3 separate regions of the Homo sapiens genome follow, and all the other regions are linked to region 1. The links come from fine-mapping of genetic effects on gene expression. A gene starts in region 1. Each other region holds a variant in brackets. All regions are shown on one strand. Distances are from middle to middle. Region 1 holds the start of GALNT12 (polypeptide N-acetylgalactosaminyltransferase 12). Region 2 overlaps GABBR2 (gamma-aminobutyric acid type B receptor subunit 2). Region 3 overlaps GABBR2 (gamma-aminobutyric acid type B receptor subunit 2).

Region 1 (5,696 bases):
AGAGACCCACACAGCTCAGGCTCACCTTTCTCTCTGGCTGGGTAAGAATAACCCAACAGGCCTTGCTGCAGGAATTAGAAGCAGGAGGCATTCACACTCCTTATCATGCTGGGTTTGGCTTAACTTCCAGGGTCAATGCAACAGCAGGATCTACAAGCAAATCCTGAGAGGACACAGGGCAGCTGCGTCACCATGGAGACAGGTTACCATAAGCCCCACAGATTGTCCACAGTGTTTCAAAGAGATATTCACAACCTGCGACAATAAAGGAAGTTGGATCCAGGAAAGAAAAACTACAACCAATCCCTGGATGACTCTCAAAAGCAACCTCTTGAGTACATTCTTGGCAACAGGGAAAGGTGAAAAAACTAAGATTTAAGCACACAGTGTGCTCCCAGGTATTGATGCTTTATTAATTCCTAAGTTGTGTTCTTTCCACTCACTTTTATGTAGAATGCATGGAGACTCACTTTTATGAGTTTCCTATTTCGCAAACGAAGGGAAACCAAGGCTCTGAGAGGCTAAGCAGCTTGCCAGAGATCACAGAAGTGACGAGCAAAAGAACCAGGATTTTATCTCCCCTGGGCTGGATTTAATCTGAAGCTGGGTATAACCTGAAAGCTTCCCCTCCACCTTGCCTCAGCGGGCACCCTCGGGGTTTCGAGGAGCTAAACATGCGTTAGGCTGGTGAGTGGAGGAACTACTATCAATCCCAACAAAGTTTTATTCAAAAAGACTAACAGTGAAAAATGCCTCAGGCAGAAGCATGAGGCTAGGCATGAGGAGATCCCCAAAACAGGGAAGACAGTGGAAACAGTGGGGCAGAGGTGGGGCATCCTCATTCCATCATTCATGGTCTCTCTGGCCAAGGTACCATGGAGCAGGCCCCTAAAATCCTGAGATCAGCATGGTGCCAAGTGGGCCAGAAGGGCCATAGTCCCTCCAGACCAGTCCTACCACATTCCAGCTGAGGGGCCTTGGGTGGGTCACCTATCCTTTCCGAACCTATTTCCACACCTGTAAAGCAGGAATGGCTTGAAGGGGAGAGGAGTGGCAGGTGCCTGGTGCACACGGCAGGCTGCCACCACCAGCTCCAATGGGAACCCCCTCTCTGAGTCCTCTTTTCCTCAAAGTCTGTAAGGAAGGGGCTCAAAAAAGGACTTGGAAGATCCCTGACACTTCGAAGAAAAAGTGAGAGCCCGGGAGGCCCAGCGGCAAAGGTGGCAGCAGCCACCTGTCCTTCCTCCTGCTGCCAGCGTGTGCCCTGGATCCCCACCTAGGCAGGGGCGCAACCTGCCCAGCCAGTAGCTCCAACAGGAACTAGGCCTCTGACCACGCTGGCTCCAGTCCAGCACCACCCACAGGAGTGAGCTGGGGTGGATCACGGCCAGAAGGAGCCCTTCCCACCCCGTGCCCCTTCCCGCCTTCCTCCACCCAAAGCTCAGAAATCCAATGCCCAGGGAGAGCACAAGGAGGCTTTCTAGCGCTGAGGGGGCCTTACAGCCATCTTTCGCTTCACCTGTGGGGCGCTCCCTCGCATCTTGTTTGTCCCTTAGGCCCTGGCACACACAGAGAATGAATGGAGCCGGTCACCGCCCGGAGGAGTTGTCAGTTTCGCGGAGGCACTGCGAGGCGGGCAGAGCGGGGTTGTCCTTTGGGTGCTGGGGGGTCCTCGCCTTAAACCCTTCTGCTTAGCCCTGACCCTCACCTTTTCAGGGAGATGATAACTTCTCAAGGAGAAGGGAGCTAAGAGATCACTAACAGACTTGCCAATTTCTGGTAATTTTTTTTCTACTTTCGTCTTTTTTACTTTCTTGCCTCCCCGCCCCCATGTGAGCTCTTACACTATCGTCTTCGGAGAAAGACTCAATAAGACGCGCCATCCTGGAGACCCCAGCTCCCCGCCCTGCCACTGCTCTGATGGAGAAACTGAGGCCCGGGGCTCTGAGGGCGGGCTTCCTCCCCAGAGCTGTGCACTCACAGCGGGTTCCAGCGCTCGGGCAGGCGGCGGTGCAGTGAGATGCGGTCGCTGAGGTAGATGTTAATCTGGTGCAGCCGCACGCTCTCCTCCTGCAGCCGCAGCTCCTCGCCCTGCAGCTGCAGCCGCACCGCCTCGCCCCGCGCGCCCAGCGCGTTCGCCGGCACCGGCGGCCGCGGCATGACCGGCTCGCGCCGCCCGGGGCGCGGGGTGCGCGGGGGTCCCGGCTCGGCAGCCCCGGCCCCGGCCCCACGCTGCGCCCGCAGCACCGAGCCCAGCCCGGCCAACGCCAGTAGCGCCAGGAGCACCAACAGCGCCTCCCGGCCGCGCCGCAGTTCCCGCGGGCAGCGCCGCCGCGCCGTGCGCCCCCACATGCGCCCGCCAACTGCAGCCAGCGATCTGCGCGCCCCAAGGCGGCGGTGGAGGCCAGGACCCGGATCCCGGAACCGCCGTGCCGCCCCGCCCCCGGCCCGCCCCACCTGCGCGCCGCCCCCTTTCCGTCCAGCCCCGCGCCAGCCCAAGCGCAGCCCCCGGGGTGGCTCATTTCGGCAGGGTCTTCAAGTGGGCTGGCTGAGACTTGCATCTTCCTTCTTGGGCTATGGTGCATTATTAAAGAGATAGTGGTGGTAAAACCCTTAGCGCCTGGCATATTGTAGGCGCTAAGTGTTGGCTGAATACACCCTGCAGGGTGTTATGAATTCTACTGCCATTATCTCATCTGATCTTTACACAGTCCAATAAAACAACCATCAACTAGGATTACGAGCTCCCTTTTACAGATGAGGAGATGGAGGTGCGATGAGATCAACAGACACCACGCTGCCCCACTGACTTCTGCAGGCCCAGCCTCTGCCATACTCTTTGGAGTCCTTGAATAGCAAACCCTCGCCTGGCTCGCCTCGTGATAGCTCTGTGACCTCTGAGGCTAGGAGCAAAAGGCCATGAAGGCTGTACATGATAGTTCACACCTGTAATCCCAGGCCGAGATAGGAGGATCACTTGAAGCCAGGAGCTTAAAACGAGACTGGTCAACATAGCAAGACTCCCATCTCTACAGAAAAATTTCAGAATTAGCCATGCATGGTGGCACGTGCCTATAGTGCCAGCTACTCAGGATGCTGAAGCAGGAGGATTGTGTGAGCCCAGGAATTGGAGGTTACCGTGAACTATGCGCCACTGCGCTGCAGCCTGGATGACAAAGCGAGATCCTGTTTCTATTAAACAACAACCAAAAAAGGCCATGAAGCTGCCGCCCTGTTCATGAGATCACTGCTGTGGGAGCCTTGAGCTGCCAGGGACGAAGTAAGTCTAATGGAGTAGACAAATATTAAAAAGATAATTAGAATTGTGTTAAGTATTTTGAAGAAGAATTACAGGGCGCTAAAAGGGCTTAGAATAGTAGAACTTGATCTAGTTTGGGGGTTTTGGAAAGCTTCTCTGATGAAGTAATGTCTACACAGATATCTGAATGTAAAAGTGATAGCAGAGATTTCAAATCATATCTTAAATTAATCTGGAACTCCCTCTGCTGGTGTCTAGCTCAGGGAAAAGAATCATTCTGTATCCCCTGTAGAAGGATAGAGTGTAAGCTCTATTTGTTGTTGTTTGTTTTACCATGGGAAGTTGGTCCAAAGCTTTTTATCAAATATTCTCAAGGAGACCAGAAGCCCAGAAAGTTTAAAAAGCACAAATCTGGTCCAATTATCTCATTGATAAATGCGGGGTCTGAGACACAGGGTGGGGAGAGGACCTTGAACTTGGCGGCTCAGGTAGAGGTAGAATCTGACTTGCTGTTGTCTTCATACAGCCTTTGGCTACTGGTATCCCCAGAGGAAATCTCCCTCAGGTTGCAGGAGGGGGGTGGGTTTTGGGATGAACCATGCAAAGCAGCTCCCACTCAGGACAACCTGCTGCTAATATTAGACTAGAGGGAAGTGGCTCTTCCCACAGTGCTCAGGGCCCCGCCTGCTTCCCACGCAGAATGGAGGCTGCTGGTTAATGCCAGAAGGCGGTTGTGTTAGGTAGGTCTGGACCTGAGCCCTTTGGCCTCTGTTCAGACACCCAACACATTTAAGATCTGCGGTCAGATTAGAAAACAGACAAGGATTACAATTCATAATGTCTTGGATCCGCTTGCCAAATTGGAATGCTTCTCAATAGAGGTTCAGATACAGAGAAAAGAGAAATGCAATTAGGCCTTACAAGACATGGACTTAAGCCCCAGGTAACAGATAAAAGCTATTGTTTACTGAGCACACACTGTGTGCTGTAAACTGCTGGACTTTCTTTTTCATGTACTTTCTCATTTCACCCTATGACAACCTTGCAAGGTTGACAGATGAGAATATGTAGGCTCAAGAAGTGAAGCAACTTGCCCAAGGTTACACAACATGCAAGCGGTAGAGGGAGGATTTGTATCTGGGTCTCCTGACTCACAGTCCAGGATTTCCCACCACACCACTCACTGTTGGGCAGGCTGCAATGAGATGCAAAGGCAGCTTAGCTTAGGAGGTCGGAACACAACCTTGGAGCCCACTTGCCTGAGCTCAACCCAGCCCCATCACGAATTGCAGTGTGACCTCAGGCAAGTTGCTTTACTTATCTCGGCTCAATTTGCTCATCTATTAAATGGTGATCTAATGATAGCACCACCTGAACAGGGTTGTTGAGAAGATTGAGTGATACAGTCTGCACAGTCAGCCTCCCGGGGCACAAAACAGAGTGGAGAGAGTGTCAGTAAGGCAAAGGGAAGATGTCCAGCACCTTGCTGAGTGAAGTATGATATTTAGACCAGAAGCATTGGTACCACCTGGGAGCTTGTTGGAAATCTAGCATCTTTTCAACAGAGGTAAAGCCCTTGGGTTTATTGCTATTTTTAGGGGGCTTATCTGTTCACTAACAGTACCATGTTATGTCATCGGCTGCTCACCAACAAGTAGATATCTCTAGAAGATGCTTTTAATTTGTCATATTAGCTCTCTTCATAGGAGTTATTACATTCCTTTTAGAGTTTAATATGATCTATGGTAGATGTGGTATTTCAAATATTAGTGGGGAACATGTGCCTAATTCAAGTAATAATTGGGACAACTTGATAACCATTTGGAAAAAATTCAAATCAAGTCCCAACATCACACTTTACATCAAAATAAATTCCAAATGATCTGAAGATGCCACAGTAAATAAGCAAAAAAAGGAAGGAAGGAAGGAAGGGAAGGGAAGGAATTTAATTATAAAAGTATTGAATGAGAAAAACCAGAGACCATATGGAAAATATTTCTAAATGTGACTATATAAAAATTTTGAATTCTGTAAGGCTTCCAGTATAATACAAAGTCCAGAAACAAAAGGCAAGTCAGAAAGAGATATTTGCAGATGACATTTACCCAGTATGTGAATCAATAGGGAAATAAAGAGAACAAACAGAAATAAAAATGGTCAAAGGATTTAAATAGACAGTTCCCACCCAAAAGGATATAAATAGTTTATAAAAGTATGAAAATATGCTCGATCTCTCTAAAATACATACAAAATAAACCTACCCTGAAATATTTTTTCACCTATCAGACTGGCAAAAATGAAAATGGCTATTAATTCCAGTGTTGGCAAGGATGTGAAAAAACACTCTCATCCACTGTTGGTAGGAATGCAAACTAGTATAACCTTTTGGAAAGCAATTAGGCAACATTTATTAGAAATGTTAATATTAACATCTTTT
Region 2 (5,696 bases), 140 kb after region 1:
GAAATGAAGCTTCCACACTGTCCCCTCCACAATGCCCCTGTGGATGGCTCACATGCACAGCCTCTTCCATGGCCTTGAACCCTCCAGTCTCAGGGTCTCCCTTATCCTCCTTGAGCCCTGTTCATAGCAGGAGTACTGACATCTCTTCAGCTCTGAGACCCAGCTAAGGGCTGGCAGTTTGGCCCCACCATGCTGGGCCGCCACCTTGTAGCCTCTCTTCTTGTCTCATCTGTCATGGACTCTCCTGTGTGGGCATCTCACCTCTTTCATCCATCACACCCGAGTCCTGTACTGTAGGTGTGTGAGATCCAGGTGCCGCCCTGCCCTCTGCTACACTGGACTCCTGCAGTGCCTGGAACACAAAAGGTCCTGCGGTGGGGATTTTTTTCTTACCTATTTCTGCCTCTTCCCCCACTCTCAACCCTCACTGCCCACCAGGCACCCAGCACTCAGGGCCCCTAGACCAGGAGCCAGCACTTTGAAGTGAAAATGGACAAGGTGAAGGATCCTATGGCACCCCCAGATGTTCACGTGGCATTCCTGGCTTTCGTGATTGGGTGGGATCTGTTTGTTCAGAGTAATGTTGATGACACCACTGCGATTCCTGGGCTGTGTGGATGGATTTAGTGAAGTCACTTGTAAGAACAAGCAACTGGACATGGGAATCCTGTGGAAGCTTGGATTTCCATGTCATTTAGCTACTCTATCTTAGGCTCCTTTTGTGTTCCAGGCACCATCCTGGGCAGTGGAGTGGAGAACTGCCAAGGGAAGTTTATAAAAACCCCCTGTTCCCTCTCTAGATGATGATGGAGACAGAAATGACCACACAGCCTGAACTGTGCAAGGCTGGAGGAGGGAGTCTCTAACTGTTAAGCAAAGTTTATAAACCATTTCTCCTTCCCTAGAGGATTGATGTGGGGTATGTGGACAGGATTTGCAGTGACTGATGGGCCTCAAACGAGGCTTTGCCCTTAAAAAAAACCATTATCATTTATCTCCTCCTCAACAGGGCTCCTCATGACCTTCAGAGGCAGCAGCTGAAGTGTTAGCAGTGAGCGTAGGTCAGACAAGGGCTTGTGTGTCGAACAGTGCTTTATAGGAAAACCACAGTGATAGTGGCAATTATGCAAGGCTTTCCATGCTCTGTTATGCCCCGTTTATTCAGGATCTTTAGGGCATCAATTGTACTCGGGTGCTTATTTTCAGGGACCTAAAGTTTTCACATTTAAACACCAAAAGTGTTTTCTTTTAGATATTGGCCATCCTGTGTATCTTTCTAAAATCTTTTTATTCCCTGTTTTTTTTTTTCAACTTAGAAAACGTTTTCTCGTACATATTCATGGTAGAAGAAAAACCAAGAAAATACTTATAAAGTATAATAATTTTCTCCCTTCATCTACTCCTCTCAGAGATAAGTCCTGTTCACATTCCACCTTCTAAGATACGGTGATTTTAATTCAGTCTTTTATTGATGACTCAAGATCTTCATCTCAGTCCTCATTAGTTGTCCTCTGCACATGTAGCATTTTCCCCACCATGCACTATGATTCTTGGTATAAAAAGTGCTGCACGAGGCGATTATCTATTTGGCTATTTTATTTTCTTGGTGCCAGCTGGCACTTTCTGTGGCTGTACATAAACCTTATATTCCTTTTGCCTCTCTATATGCACCGGGTCTTCTTGATTCTAAGATGCACATCTTCCCTGGATATTTTAATGTTTCTGAAACCAGGATGTACCTTGCCAGAGGACAAAGGAATAAGTTCTTGTGGACATTGTCACCATCTCCGTGTACATGGGGTTTCATCTATTTCCCACCTCAGTTGCTATGGTCACTTATTTCATTGGAGACTTTACAGTCACTTGAATTTTAACTTACATTTGGATTCCTAAATGATTGCTTATTATGTGTTTTAGAAGATGACACTATAATGAAGTAATACAATTATTGTGAATGTAGAAGATTGCTGTCATGTGCCAGCCAAGATGATTAAAGGCAGTTGAAATTGCCAAATCTCCCAGAATAGATCATAAAATTTTCAGAGTTAAGGGAGGTGGCCGTGACCAACTTTTGTGTCATGAAGGAATATCAAGTGCCCGAAATTATTAAAAGCTTTGGACAGACTTTAAAGATAAACTGTCTAGTTCCCATCAGCAGATAATTTAATTAAAGAAAAGTGAAACAGCAAATAACCAAATAGGAAATTCAGATGAAAGGCCCTTATCTCCTTTATCCTTGGGTTTGCCTGAGAATTGTTCTGTTCATTTGAAAGATGCTGAGGGGTTCAAGGTCTTGCAGTCTGGGTCACAAACAGCAGGGCTTCAGCAGAATGCTGTGCCCATCTGGCCAAGACAGGCACCGACTCAGACGAACCCTGAGAATCTGCATCTGAAGAAGGCTTAGATTCAAACTTTGAGTGTAGTATTGAAGAAGAAAGTGGTTTGAATAAACCTATGCTTTTTGCTGGTCAGTAAAAAATATTTCTGTGTTCTCACTTAAAAGGGAAGTTGTGACACATGCTACAACATGGATGAACCTTGAGGATAT[C/T]ATGCTAAGTGAAATGAGCCAGTTACAAAAAGACAAATACTGTCTGACTTCACTTATATGAGATTTCCTGAGTAGTCACATTCACAGAGACGGGAAGTGGAATGGTGGTCGCCAGGGCTGGGGGAGAGGGGAAATAGGGAGTTGTTTTTTTAAGGGTGTAAAGTTTCAGTTTTGCAAAGACAAAAAGTTCTGGAAATTGGTTGCACAACATTGCGAATGTGCATAACACTACTGAACTGTGCATTTTAAAAAGGTTAAGATGGTAAATTTTATATTATGTATTTTTTCATCACAATTAAAAATTATATTTCTGGGTTCTCTTGGTGAGAGCACCATCATCCACCCAGTTCTACAAACAAGAAACCTTTGATACCTCCTTCATGCCCCCACCCAGTGATCTCCAGACCTTGTAGGTTTTATCTGCTAGTTCTCCAACTCTCTGCTTTTTACCATCTCTTTGATCATAGTCCAAGCTACCATCATCTCGAGACAACAGCGGTGGCCTCTTAACCACAACCTCATGGACTTCTTGCTGTCCTCAAATTCTTTATCCAGAGTGAACTGTTCAAAAGTCTGATTGTATTGGGCCCCCATTTAAAAGCCTTCCTTGATCAGGCAAATGCAGATCAAAACCACATGACATGTCACTTCACACCCACCAGGATGGCTAAAATCCAAAGTCAGATAATAACAAGTGCTGGTGAGGATGTAGAGAGACTGGAACCGTTGTTCATTCCATGTGGGAATGTAAATGGTCTTTGGAAAACAGTCTGGCAGTCGCTTAAATGATTAAACATAGAGTCACCATATGACCCAGCAGTTCCACTCCTAGGTATGTATCCAAGAGAAATGAAAGCATATGTCTACCTAAACACTTGTACATTCATGTTCATAGCAGCATTATTTAGAATAGCCAATAAGGTGGAAAGAATCTAAATGTCCATCAACTGACGAATGGACAAACAAAATGTGGTAGATCTATAAAATAGATAACTGCTTGCCCATAAAAAGGAATGGAGTACTGATGCATGCTACGACATGGATGGGCCTTAAAAACATTAAGTGAAAGAGGAAGCCAGTCACATAAGATCCTGTGGGATTCCATTCGTGTGAAATGTCCAGAATAGGCAAATACATAGACAGAAAGTAGATTAGTAGTTGCTTAGAGATTGGCAGAGAGCGGGAAGTGGGGCGGGGGGGTGGCAGTGGTTGCTAAAGGTATGGGATTATTTTCCTGTTTGTCTTTTTAATGAAAGCAAGATGATGTCTGTTTATTGGTGTCTTTTAAAAAATAGGTCTGGGTATATTTAGGTTGCATTTTCCATTTTTTTAATCATGGTAAAATACACATAACATCAAACTTACCTTCTTAGCCATTTTAAGTGTATGTACAGTTCAGTGGTATTAAATACATTCATAATGTTGTACAGTCATCACCACCACCCATGTCCATAACTCTTTCCATATTGTAAAACTGAACTCTGTATCCATTAAACCATAACTCACCATTCTTCCCACCCTCTAGTCTTGGCAACCACCATTCTACTTTCTGTCTCTACAATATTGACTACTCCAGGTACCTCAGATGAGTAGAATCATACACTGTTTGTCTTTTTGTGACTGACTTCTTTCATTTAATACAACGTCCTCCAGTTTCATCCATGTTGTAGCATATGTCAGAATTTCTTTCCTTTTTAAGCTGAATAATATTCTCTTGTATGTATACACTCCATTTTGCTATTCACTCATCTGTTGACAGGCATGTGAGCTGCTTCCACATTTCAGCTATTCTGAATAATGCTGCTATGAACATGAACACACAAATTTCTGTTTGGAATCTTGCTTTCCATTCTTGCGGGTATATACGTAGAGGTAGAATTGCTGGACCATATGATAATTTTTAGGGGGGAACCGCCATATTGTTTTCCATAGCATCTGTATCATTTTACATTCCCACCAACAGTGCCCAAGGGTTCCAATTTCTCTATGTCCTCATCAACACTTGTTATTTTCTGGACTTTTTTGGTAGTGGCCATTATAATGGATGTTACATAGTATTTGGGTTTTTTTTTTTTGAGGTGACGAAAATGTTCTATAATTGACTGTGGTGATTGTGCATATGTGTGAATATACTAGAAAGTATTGAATTGTACACTTTGAAGGGGTAATTTGTATATGTGAATTATATCTCAATAAACCTGTTTATTTTTTAAAAGCTTTCCATGGCCTACTCTTCCTAGCAGAAAGTCCACAGTCCTTCGGCTGGCCCTTCTGCCTGGCCCTCATCCTCCCCTAGTCCCATCTCAGCTGGAGACTGCACACGTGGCTTGCTGGCATTCTGCCCTTTGCCTGGCTGCATCCTCCCACCCCCGCCCTGGTCGCTTGCTTCGTTCTCCTGGTTGCGTTCTCTTGGTTCTACCTTGTTAAGATTCGAGCTCAAACATTACCTTCTCAAGGAGGCCTTTCCTGACTCCTTGGACTAGATTCCTCATGATGTGTGCTTCTGGTTTCCTGCATGTACATGCCCCATTGACTGTGCCAGCCCCCAGCCCCTGCCCCTAGTCTGTTCTGCATCCTCAATCCCAGCAATAGTCTTCCACATGTATTTGTGGAGTGATGAATCAATAACATCCTAGGTCTTAAGACTTATGGTATTAATGTTCTGCCATTTTCCTAAAATGATTTGAAGCAACATAAAGCAAAACAAAACAACAGCTAATAGGATGACTTATAAAGCTATGTTAATTAAAACATTGTGCTCTAAAACCAAAAAGAGATAGCCAGTCAGTGGAACAGAATAGAAACTCTAGAAGCGTGCCTGAATAAATACAATAATTTAATATATAATAAATTAGAATGTGAAATGATTGAGAAGAACTGAATTTATCAACAAAAGGTATTGAGGATGACTGGTTACATTTAAAAAGTTTAAATGTCAGAACAACCTAATTAAAATGACCAAAGGACTTACATAGACATTTCTCCAAAGAAGATAAACGAATGGCCATTAAGCCCATGCAAAAATGGTCAAGTTCACCAACCTTTAGGGAAATGCAAATCAAAACCACGAGTCACCGCTTTACACCCATTAGGATGGCTTTTATTAAAAAACAAAAAAACACCACAGAAGCAAACAAAATGACAAGTA
Region 3 (5,696 bases), 320 kb after region 1:
TGGGAAGTTTGCTTAATTCTTTGGACCTTGCTTTGCTCATGAATCTTTCCAAAGTGAGCATAATAACAGCGCCCACCTCCCAGGGTGGGGCTGACGGACTGTTTAGCACAACAGCTCAGAAAGGGCTTGAGAGTTGTTATTTTTATGATGTTAGGATTGCTTGCAAACTGGGGGTACATGCTAGTTCTTTGAATTGGGTTATCCTTGCTAAGTGTCATGTGCGTGCGTGAGTGTGTGTGCGTGCCTGTGTGTGTGTGTGCCTGCGTGTGTGTATGTGTGTTTAGCTCTCTTTAAGCATCCCAGAGACAAAGTGGTTCTAGATGAGGGATGAGACAGGGTCAAGAAAAAGAAAAGGAAAGCTACCCAGGGTTTGGCAACATTAGACTCCTCTCCAGAGGGAGTTTAGTGGGCCTCTCCCTCACTCATCCTGTCACTGTTGGGGGTTTGGGCTGAATACCCCTCCCCATTTTCCTACCCCATTCCCACCGCTGTTTCCTTCCACTTTTGCCCCTTTCTTGTGATAGTAGCCTCTTGAGGGTGTGAACATAGGTCTCCATGTATGGTCTCCAACCCTAGACCTGGCCATCTCATTTGCCCCAACTCAGGTCATCTGCTTTCACTCCAGGAAGCTCCCTGCAGAGCCAAGTCCCTGGAAGGGCACAGGATTTTCCAGACCCTGCCCTCTGCCACGTTTCCAGTCCTTTGTGATATCACAGCTCTGATCTGTCACTGTCATCCTCAGGGATGGTTATGGCTGCCCCTCCCTACCCCCTACTACTGCCTAAACTGCCCCAAGCCCTTTCAGCATAAGAGAATGGGCCCATACCCTGGCAGGGAGGCAGGGGGCTTGTCTGAAAGCAGGGGCTACTGCTATTCCCAAATTTCTTCTTTCTACTCTCTGGACTTTCAGGAAAAGATACAAGCTATGCAACATTGAAAAGCATGATTCTGGAACTTTCATGAGAGCATGCACATGTGTGGAAAAACTATTAAGATTCCCCAAATCCAAAACCTTTCCCCTAACCCCTGAATCTTCCAGTAAGTTGCTACTTTAGAAAGGAGAACGCAGTATATCTGCACTTCCTACACTCGGGACACCTCCTCGTGCTCTAGAATGCACATACCCTAGTTTGAGAAGCACCTCAAACTGTTTATACTGCTCTATGGTGCCCCCCAAGATCCCCATCCAGCCTCATCCCCCGTTTGGCCTCTCCCCAACCCTGGATTCCGGGCTGCTCCTCCTTCCTTCCAGACTTGGCAGCGTCTTTCCCCCTCTTTCTCACCGTCTAGAAGCAGAGTATGTGTTCACAGCTTCCTGCAGCAGGCATGACCTGGCTCTGCATAGGATCTGTCTCCAGGGCCCTCTAATGGTCAAGGAGAACCAAAGTGAGAGCTCTGGCTTTCATTTTGGTTCTGTGGAGCCCTGGGAGAGCTTGTACCTCTCTGGGAAGAGATTAGCTAGATGGGGGATCCCACGGGCCCCATCCAAATCTAACAGCCTGGGAGCACTGAACAAAGTGGTCCTTGCAACTCGGTTGTCATAGCAACAAAGACACCAAATGGTTCACAAGTGGCAGAGCTGGTTATTTAACTGTCAGCAGGTGGTCAGGAGGTCAGCTATGAAGATGTGGGTCCCTCGATCTACTCAAGAAGTGGACATGGTGAGCCCAGGGTCTAGACCATGGGGTTGGTCAGATATTAGTGCAGTGATGATAATGGCTACTAGTGACCAAATAAGCAGCGTAGGCCAGGCATTGTGCGTGATGCTGCACACTGGATTAATTCACTTCATCGTGCATTCAACACATATTTGTTGACATATGTGTAGCGCCCTGTTCTGGGAGCTGGGGACTTAGAGATAAGTCAAGTTACGCTTACTTCAGTGGGGAAGACAGACAAGTAAGTGGACTTGAGCCACATTGGAGGCAAGCACAGGGTGATCCAGGCTCACAGAGGAAGAAGTGGCCACCAAGCCTGATGGGGCAGAGAGATGGTTTCTCAGAACAGAGGAGCCTGGGCTAAGGTAGGAAGGGTGAGTAGCAGCTGTGCGGGCAAAGTAAGTGGGAGGAGAGGGAAGGGCACTCTGGAGGGATAGACTTGCAGAATGGGTGGGGGGCGAAGTGGGAATATGAATAAATGAATGAATGAATGCAGTCCTGTTTTAGGACTCACTGCCAAGGCAGGGTATGAGAAATGTGATAGAGAATTGAGCACAAGTCAGTTGGTAAAGACTGCATAGGATCTTTACCATCTCTATCTTTAGCACATCTTGAATGTGCTAAGGAGCTCAGTGTTTGATCTGCAAACCTCAGGAAG[C/A]CATGGACAGATTTCACACAATCAGACTTGAATCTAGGAATGAACCCTTCCTCTGCTCTGTGGCGATGGGTGGATGGGGCAGGATTCATGGCAAGGGTGCAGGGAGGCTGTTGCTGTTCACTGAGTAAGGAATGATGGTAACCAAACTCAGGGCAGTGGGGCTGGAGGGTTGGGACTGATTAAGGAGCTAGTTGTGAGCAGACAGAACCAACAGATTCCAGTTATGGCTTGGATGAGGGTTGAAGAAGAGGAGTGAGTCTAAGATGACTCCCAAGTTCCTGACATTGTCAGAAATGGAAAACACAGGAGGAGGAAAGGGCCTCTTGGGAAAGCTGGTGGATTCAGCTTGGGACATGTTGCGCTGGAGGTGCCTGAGAGAATCCAACTGGAAGAGTCTGGTGGGAAACTGGAGAAAATCTGAGGCTGGGGGGAGAGATTTGGAGTCCACAGCACACAGAGAACAGTTGTGGCTGGGGTCATGAACTAGGTGGCCCAGGGAGAGTGATGGGAGCAAAGAGCTAAGGACAGAACACCAGCATTTAGGGATGGGCAGAAAGGTCAGGAGCTGATGATGAGGAGTATGAGCAGGAGTGGCCAGGCAGGCACGAGGGGAGCCAGCAGAGAGCAGCATGGAAGCCACCGGGTGAGTTTCATTATGATGAATTGACAACCACTGGGCAAGGTAGATAGGATTATCCCTTTCTCAGAGATGAAGGAATTGAGGCTCCAGGAGATTAAGAAGCAAAGTTTTCAGCTAATCAGAGGTGGAGCTGTGATTTGAACCCAGGTCTCTGACTTCAAAATCTAATAAGCTGTTTTTACCATACCATGTTTAGCAACACAGGGTTTGGCACAAAGTAGATGATCAATAGATACTTGCTGGATGAAAGGATGGATGGATGCATGGGTACTGTCAGCAGCAAAAAATGCTAAAAATTTTTAACGAACAAGCAGAAAGATCTTGGAGCATGCCTGGAAGCAAGTCCACAGAACGGAAGCAGCTTAGAACTTTTTATAGCATTGCAGACGTGGTGATGACAAAGGCTTGCCTTCCTTCCACTGCTCTGTTAACGATCTTTTAAAGTCCTTTCAGAGCCAGTGTTTTTTTTCCCCTCTTCTTTCCATTCTTGCTTGCAAACGAAAGATGATTTTAGAATCCAGGCCTTCTTTATTTTGCTAAAGTACATGATGAGTAAAATGGCCTCTCAGTCAGCACTTTCCAATTTTGAAAGATGCTAAAAACTGATCTTTAAAAGCATATTTTTCTACTTTATGCATCAAAGGGCCATGAGGCCTGCTGGAGGGGATGGATGAACTGCAGGAAGGTGGCACCACCTGCAAGGCTGGGCCTCACTGTGGAGGGCAGGAAGCGGCTGGGATGGGGAGCAGGTGTTTGGGCCAGGGCCTGGCTGGTCTCCTGGTGGCCGCCCCACCCGTTCTCTTTCAGCCTGTTCTTCTCCATGGGACAGGACGCAGCTGGATCCCAATGCCCCAGAAAGCAACAAAGACCCCATTTACCTGACCCATGAGAGCCTCTGGCTGATGCTCAGTAATTGTCTGTTGAATGAATGAATGAGTCACAGGGGTCACTGTACACATTCCTATTAACCACACTGAGATAATGAATGTAATCCCATGTATAGAGCTTTCAAAAATAGATTTTCCTTAGAAATAAAGGTGGACACTCACTATGTGCTAGGCACTGTGTTAAGCACTTTACAAGGACTATTTCACTTAGTCTTCCCAGAAATCCGGTAAGGAACGTACTACCATTATCCTCATTTTGCAGATGAGGAAACTGGGGCTGAGATGGAAAAGGAGCGACCAGAGGCCACCCATGGTTTGTTGGTAGAGCTGAGATGCGAACAAAGCTCAAAGCAAGTCTGAAACCTCTTAATTGGGAAGCTCTGTAGGCTCCAGGAATTTCTTGAGGGATTAACTATCAGGAAGGTAGAAAGGGCTAGAACACTGTGCAGGGCAGCAGAGTGTGGTTGGCTGGGGTCTTGTCTCTGCCACAAACTCCCCAGGGGCCTTAGAAGCTCCTTTCTCCTCATCTGGCCTCAGTTTTCCTATATGTAAAGTGTGGAAGAAAGTTAGATGATGCTTCCATGGACTGCAGGATTTGCCTGCCCTGGTGGGAGGAGAACAGGGGAGGTTGCAAGGCCCCTGAGAGCAGTCAGCTTTAGCCTCCAGCCTGTACAGACTTGCCCTAGGGCTTGCCCATGAGACCAGGGTGGACTGACTGCAGGAGCCACAGGAAAGCCAGCCCTGGAGAGGGCTAGAGAATCCAGGCTGGGCTGGGGTTGGGGGTGAGGTTCTGCCCTGCCCACCTTCCCAGGCAGAGCTCTGGGCTAAGAGCCAGAGGTGAAGGAATGTTGTCTGCCACAGCCTTGAACCCTTTATGGGGTGCTGAACATCTACTCACCTTCATGATGTGTCCTTCCATCCACAGGGGAATGATGTGCGGATCATCCTTGGCCAGTTTGACCAGAATATGGCAGCAAAAGTGTTCTGTTGTGTAAGTAAAACAGTTGTATCATTCGTGTCTTTGGGGAGGTTCACGAAGCTTTTTCCCATACTCATTATCTCCCTGCTCAGTCTGTGAGTGGGATCACAGGACTGGAGCCTGGGTTCCTGGAAGCAGAAGAGTTGCGTTCACTGTTCTTTCCTCTTTCCAGGGAGCTAAAACCCCAGGGCTCAGAACAATACCATCATCGAGGAACCAGGGACCTCAGTCTAACCCATAGTCTAAGCCTTGTTGGCTAATTCTAAGTCTGCTCAACTTAGCCAGGGAGATACCAGAAATCAGGGTGAGGCTGAAGTGACTCAGACCCCCTCCCTGCCCTGTAGGTAGGGCTCAGAGTCTTAGGTTAGGGACAAATTATCAACTATTGATTTTCTCCTCCTGAATCCTTTACAGCTGTCTAGTGACAGATGACAAAGGTGACCTTTTTATGCCTTATCTCATTTAATCTTTTCAATAACCATGTGAAGCAACTATGATTTTCCCATTTTACAGATGAGGAAATAGAGCTCCATAGAGTAAAGGGACTTGTCCAAGGGCCCTCAGCCAATTCATGGCAGAGCCAAGGCTCCATCCCCATTAACCTGATCCCCAATCTAGTCTCTAAAAAAAAAAGGTTTTCTCCATATGACTTCTAGCTTAAGTTAGATGTAGGGGACAGAACACAGGAACTAAGTCAGTTTCCATTTTGATGTCCCAGCTCCCAATCCTCCCCATCATGTCAGGAGAAAAGTCAACAAAATGAAAGCCCAGGCAGGTGAGTCACTGTCTGCCCAATAAGCTTCACCTTTTAGACTGAGGTCATTCTAGGCGTAGTGTCTGGTGACGGGCCGCAGATCTCTGATCTTTTTGTCAG

The links. PIP is the estimated chance that this variant, and not a neighbour inherited with it, causes the effect. A credible set is the group of variants that fine-mapping cannot tell apart.
Region 2: its variant is the best candidate, but not a certain one, in a credible set for the expression of GALNT12 in cerebellar hemisphere (GTEx, PIP 0.57).
Region 3: its variant is the best candidate, but not a certain one, in a credible set for the expression of GALNT12 in whole blood (TOPMed, PIP 0.82).

The regions. Positions count from the first base shown.
Region 1 is chr9:98,804,355-98,810,050 of GRCh38, reverse strand. It overlaps GALNT12 (polypeptide N-acetylgalactosaminyltransferase 12), which reads right to left and starts at 2,381. Exons shown (of 10, transcript NM_024642.5): 1 at 1,982-2,381. The coding sequence starts at 2,352. It overlaps LOC124902229 (a long non-coding RNA gene), which reads left to right and starts at 2,471. Exons shown (of 2, transcript XR_007061689.1): 1 at 2,471-3,280. RefSeq lists silencers at 2,240-2,309, 2,410-2,499.
Region 2 is chr9:98,669,198-98,674,893 of GRCh38, reverse strand. The region is part of intron 1 of GABBR2 (gamma-aminobutyric acid type B receptor subunit 2); the gene reads left to right. Among named protein-coding and RNA genes, the nearest start is that of GABBR2, 37 kb to the left of the region's middle. The variant C/T (reference allele first, on the strand shown) is at 2,549.
Region 3 is chr9:98,480,070-98,485,765 of GRCh38, reverse strand. GABBR2 (gamma-aminobutyric acid type B receptor subunit 2) reads left to right here. Exons shown (of 19, transcript NM_005458.8): 5 at 4,769-4,834. Among named protein-coding and RNA genes, the nearest start is that of GABBR2, 230 kb to the left of the region's middle. The variant C/A (reference allele first, on the strand shown) is at 2,317.